Linked DNA regions of Homo sapiens: region 2 is linked to region 1. Evidence: fine-mapped expression QTL. A gene starts in region 1. The other region holds a variant in brackets. All regions are shown on one strand. Distances are between the middles of the regions.

Region 1 (2,917 bases):
CGGATGGCTTGAATACAGGAGTTCCAGACCAGCCTGGGCAACATGGCGAAACCCTATCTCTACGAAAAAAACACAAAAATTAGCCGGGCGTAGTGGCGCACGCCTGTAATCCCAGCTACTTGGGAGGCTGAGATGGGAGGATGGGTTGGGCCCAGGGGATCGAGGCTGCAGAGAGCGGTGATCGCGCCACTGCACTCAACTTGCGCAACAGAATGAGACTCTGTCTAAAAAACAAACAAACAAACAAACAAACAAACAAACAACCCCCAAACTCCCCAAAAATGTGTTAGGGGAAGGAGGTGGGACAGTGTGTATTTCTGATCTACTCGCCTTTCCTAGTATGACCACCAGGGGGCGCGGAAGCCCTCCTGGTACTAAGGCGGGGACAACCTGCCCAGCGAGCACAGCGGGCAGAAGGAAGTGTGCCGGACGCGAGAGAGAACTACGGCCGAGACCCGCGGGGCCGGCTCAAAGCCCGACCTCTGCCATACGCACCGTATCTTTATGGGAGCCGATGAGGTCAGCAGGGAGCACGCGTTCAGATGGCAGAAGAGGGCAAAGTACTGCTAGAATTACAAAGATATTTACAGCTTTTTAACCTGAAAGCACAGAGCAGATCCTATTCTTCAGAATTAAATCTTCGGCTCGCCAGTCCCGTTTATGGATCTCCACTCTGATGAATGTGCCATTTGTTCCCAAGAAGACAAATAGGGTAGGGAGAAGAGGGAGAGGCGGGGAGAAGACTCGAGATAAAGGGACGATCTGCTTTTCGGAAGCAGAAGCCGCCTGGGAACCACCTGCACACCAAGCAGGCTGCGAGGACGGGGAGCGCTCCAGTGCAAAGTTCTGTATTTTAAAGCCCCTCCTCGCTCACAGGCTTCACAGCGAACTACGAAGTGGGTACCATCTCTGATTTACAGACACGGGAACGGGGTCCTCTTGAGAAACGATGCTTTCCCAAACGTCTGCAAATTGTGAGTGCCAAGTGTCTCCACTGGCACTAACAACATCGAGCTGCTTACGTTTCTCGGAGCGGTCCCGATTTCCAACAAGCAAAAGATCCAAATTCTCTGACCACCCTGACCGTCCTGTATCTCCAGATCTCCAGGTCTTTCCTCTGGACACCTCCTCCATCCCCCCACTTTCACTGCCAGCAGCCCTGAGGCTGCGCGGGATCCCGCTACTCGGAATGCCTTCCTCCTGGCGGGATATTTTTAGAACACTCGACTGCCACCCAATGTAGCCCACATCACATTGTCTTATTTGTTTTCGGGAGCTTGTCCCCGCCTAGCAAGGAGTCGGCTAAGAACTGGATCCTAGCGAGGAGCCCGGCACAGACAGCGAATGACCGCAGCCAGACAGTCGCTCTTGCTCTTCCTCGGCCCTGCGGCAGGATCCGCCGGTGCAGGGGCCTCTCCCCGGACTCCACGCGTGTCTGGAGGGCTCTCGGGTTAGGGAAGGGGGCTTTGGAGACGCCCCGGGCGGCCGGGCGGTGGCGGGACGCGGGCCCTTTAAGAAGGAGCGAGGGGCGCGGCCAGGTAGGGGCGGGTCCAGGGCGGATCAGCGCTGCGCCGGCGCCGGCCCGGGAGCCGGATTTGGAGCGCGAGGCGCCGGTGGGGGCGGAGGGGGCTGCGCGGCGGAGGCTCCCGTGGCCTCGGACGCTCCTCCTAGCTAGCGGCCGCCGCCCGCCGCCGCCTGCGCCTCCAGCTCCTTCGCCCCGGCGGGCCCGGCCGCCGCTTCCGGCAGCTCACCTGGGAAGCGCTCACCTGGGACGCGCTCACCTGGGACGCGCTACCTGCCTCCGGGCGCCTGGGCTTCAGGATGAAGGACCGTCTGGAGCAGCTGAAGGCCGTGAGTTTCGCCGCAGGCGGGGTGCTGCCAGGAGGGGTGCTGCATGGGAGAGGGGCTTCCCTTTGCTCCCCAAGTCGAGGCTGGAGGGGGGCCCGAGCCGGAGGCTTGCCCTCCCCAAGCCCCCACCGCTTCCCGCGCCGGTTCCGCACCCTCCCCTCCCCTCCCCTGCGGGGTCATGTGCCCGGTGATTCATCGCTAGGCAATGATTTTCCTGAACGCCTCTAACTCTCCCACCCCGCAAGCTGGACAGTGTCTGTCCAGAGCTGGTTCCCGAAGCGGGTGCTTGGGCCCGGGAGGTCAGGGGTCCCTTCACCACCTGCCCACTGCTGCCTGGCACTATGCCCAGGACCAGCCTCCTTCTCCCTTTCCTGTTTCTCTCCTGAGGTGCTACAGGCCTGGCTGCCCCTTCCCCCAGGGAGCAGCTCAGAGCTCTCTGGTGACCTCTGGAGCTGTGAGCCGGTCACATGCTGGGATGGGTCAGCTCCTCTCCAACCGGTGGTCTGTAATTGTTATCCCCGGGTGTCATTGTCCCCCCCTCCCCCGCCGTATCTTTTGGAACAGCTGTGGTTAGGTCAAAGGATCTGAAGGTAGACTACCTCCAGCCTTGGCTGCGCAAAAGCTGTAAAGCCTTAGGTTACTTACTGTGAGTCTCTGTTTCCTTATCTATCAAATGGGAATGATCATACCCTAGGAATTTGTTGGGAGGATCAGCTGATACAATGGAACTTGATACAGAAAAGGGTTAACGCATAGGGTTTTAAGCCAGATATTCATTGACTCATTCAGTACATAATTATTGAGTGTATTCTATGGGGAGGTCCAGTGCTAAGCCTTGGAGATTCAGTGGCACAGGTTCTACCTTAATAGAATTAAAATCTAGCCCTTGACACTCAAGAGTTTAGTCCATCTACTTTGGAGCTTGTTACAAGTGTAGCAGCTTAGGCCTGAGTCTAGCCCCGCAGAATCAGAATCTAATTATTCATCCATTTCCCCAGGTGATTCATGGGCACATTACAGTTTGGGAAGCACTGGACTGGATTAGAACTGGGGTTGTCTCCTGGCTCCA
Region 2 (2,917 bases), 92 kb before region 1:
TATGTTATATGGTATTCTTTTTTTAGTTACATCCTTTATATGTTTTATAAAATTCAACAGACAGGGATAACAGGTTATAACCAACACAGAAACAGAGACTTTCTTTTTTCTGCTTTCAGAGAAAATACATGTTTAAAAAATTCAAACACCATAAACACATGTAACTTAAGTGAAAGTTCCCCACAATTCCACAGCTGTGTTAAGTTTTAAACAGTTTTAAGCTGTGTTAAGTTTATAAAGTTAACTTGTTTCTTTTTATTTAAGCAATATGTCTTGGACATCTTTTCATGCATGCACACAGGCATAACTACTGATAGTAACTCATTCTTTTTAATACCTACATAAGATTGCATTTTATTGCTAAACTATAATGTAATTTATCCCCTACTGGTAAACATTTGGATTATTTACAATTTTCCAATATAATAATTAATACTGTAATAACATCATACATATCTTAGCATTTTATGTGACTATTTAAATAAACTAATTTCCTTTTAGAATCAGATTACATTAACAGTTAAAATTTGCTATATATATGTAATTTTTAATCATACAACGATGTATCACATAATACTAGTGATCCAAAGAGTGAGGGAAGTGGGACTTTCAAATATATAATTTTGGTATCATAGGACCCACTGCCTAGTTTGGTTGATTTATGTATTAGTTGTGGTAAGGGATTCCTTAAGTTGTGGATCACTGTGCCATCACTGGGATAAAGACTGTGGGCAAAAGCTATAAAAATATCCTTACTTAAGCCTCCGGGACATGGGTCTTCTTTATAATTATGTGGTATTTTCTTTCCCACCCAATAGTTTCCTCTTACCTGAGTGACTAGTCAGGTGGCACTCTTCCTCTAAACTGTCATCTTACAGAAAAGAATTTAAGGTAGCCATTTTATGATGATGGTCTCTGATAAGCCTATCCTGATGTGCTCCAAAAAATGGAAAAATCCACTTTAAATGAAAATTACAGTGTTAATTTAAATGACTAGTCATATGAAAGAAAATATTTAAAGAATAATGTAATTAAAAACCAAATGTGACATTCATATTTGTGTCATCCTTGGTAAGGAACAGTAAGCTGGGACAGGATAAATTGTTTTTTGCAACTTTACTAACTTAGCAATGCCACAAGAG[T/C]GGGAATCTATCATCCTGAATTGAGGGATTTGTAAAAACATTTACTTCCCAAATTTAAGAAGTTAATTTGTTAGTGGATTTGTTCTAATGCAGTAGAGTTCTAATTTGCATGCTTTTCTATCACTACTTCCAGTATTCATGCTTGCTAACTTTACCAAATCCTATCAAATATGGATAATCTATTTCCCCTTAATAATAATATTTTAAAAATATTGGTTAAGTCGCCATATTCTGTGAGAATAGATCTCTGGTGAATTGATTGTTACATTTTCAAACATGTAACCAGAGGAATCTATGCCATAAAATACCATCATCATCATTTTAGATTTTTCTTACTCTTGTAAAAAATTATCTGAAGTAGTATTTTAGAGATATTGTGCCCTTACTATAAAACAATATTTCACCCTGTATCTTTTTCAAATGACCTAAAAATATAGTTACTTAGATATGCCAGTGCTTGACCTGAGTCCATTATTGGTCAAAATGATAAAAGGTAGGCAAAAGAATAACAGACAAATGAAGGGAAAGAGATTATCCGTAATAACGAACTAACCTATACTCTGATACGGGTTACTGAATTCCTGGCTGCTTCTATAAACTTATACTTGTAATAACCCCTGAAGCCTGTCTCAGGGAGTTTTGAATGAAAACAAAATAAAAAGGAAGAAGTGATTTAATTTTAAGGCAATCTCAATCTCTAAAGACTATAGTAGCTATCAATAAAAGGGAGGTAGGAAGGAGGGTGATTCCTTCCAAGTGGAGGCAGGAGATTTCCAAAGACTCCCCCAAAACTATTAAACATAACTAGTAGTTTACAGTAATTGTGTCTATAGTTACTTAACCCGTCACTCTTCCTCATTTGTTAAAATGAGGATAATAATAGTACCTATCTCACAAGGCTGCTATGAGGATTAACAATATATGTAAAATATTTAGAATGGTGCCTAGCACATAATAAGCACCATGTTAAGTGTAAGCTTTTATTTTTAGAGAAGGAGTTGGGATTACTGCAACACTATTTATTGCTCTAAGATGATGCAAACATTTTTTCATGCAGAAGACTAGTTTCTTAAGGAAAGGTGACCATTTGTAGCCAGTGACCTAAAATGTCTACTGTAATAGCAGGTATTATTCCAGATGCCCGCTATATGAATTAAAAATCATAAAATCAAAACAAATGTCAAAGGTCTGACATTTCACCTCTTGATTTAAACTCTCTATACCAGCTTTATATCAACCTGCAGAGGAGTATCAAAGAAGTCACAGGTTGACTTGGAAAACAATTTTCTTTTTATAGTATTTACACCAAGCTGTTATGAGGAATTAAGATCTTCACTTTACAATTCCAGTACATTACACTCTCAAGGGAAAGGGCTCACCTTTGGAAATCTTTTCTCTATATTATTATAAACTTTCTTGGCCAAAAAATCCTTTCTAATCACCCTTTGGCCCTAAGGTACAAAGTGGGCTAATCATATGCTATTTAATTGCCTTAACTTTGTACTACCTGTTCTTTTACTGTGTAAACCTAATGGCTTTTTCAGCACGTGTACACTTTTCTTCTTTCCCATCATATAAAATACCGTTCCGGACACTCTAACATCCTTTTAAGGCAATATTATTCCCATCTTATGAGAAAAAATAGAAACTCAGGAAAAAAAGACTGTCCATAGCACTCTGGAAGTCAATGAGAAGGTATGACTCTTCCTCTTCTGTCCAGGTTGAAAACTGAGAACATGGTACAATGCTGCCTCATTTTAATGTCTATAAATCAA

The links. PIP is the estimated chance that this variant, and not a neighbour inherited with it, causes the effect.
Region 2: its variant is the best candidate, but not a certain one, in a credible set for the expression of STX3 in whole blood (INTERVAL, PIP 0.79).

The regions. Positions count from the first base shown.
Region 1 is chr11:59,753,785-59,756,701 of GRCh38, forward strand. STX3 (syntaxin 3) reads left to right here and starts at 1,592. Exons shown (of 11, transcript NM_004177.5): 1 at 1,592-1,851. The coding sequence starts at 1,822. RefSeq lists enhancers at 22-522, 212-506, 272-566, 503-662 and a silencer at 1,533-1,792.
Region 2 is chr11:59,661,526-59,664,442 of GRCh38, forward strand. All of the region lies in intron 2 of PATL1 (PAT1 homolog 1, processing body mRNA decay factor), which reads right to left. Among named protein-coding and RNA genes, the nearest start is that of PATL1, 6.1 kb to the right of the region's middle. The variant T/C (reference allele first, on the strand shown) is at 1,143.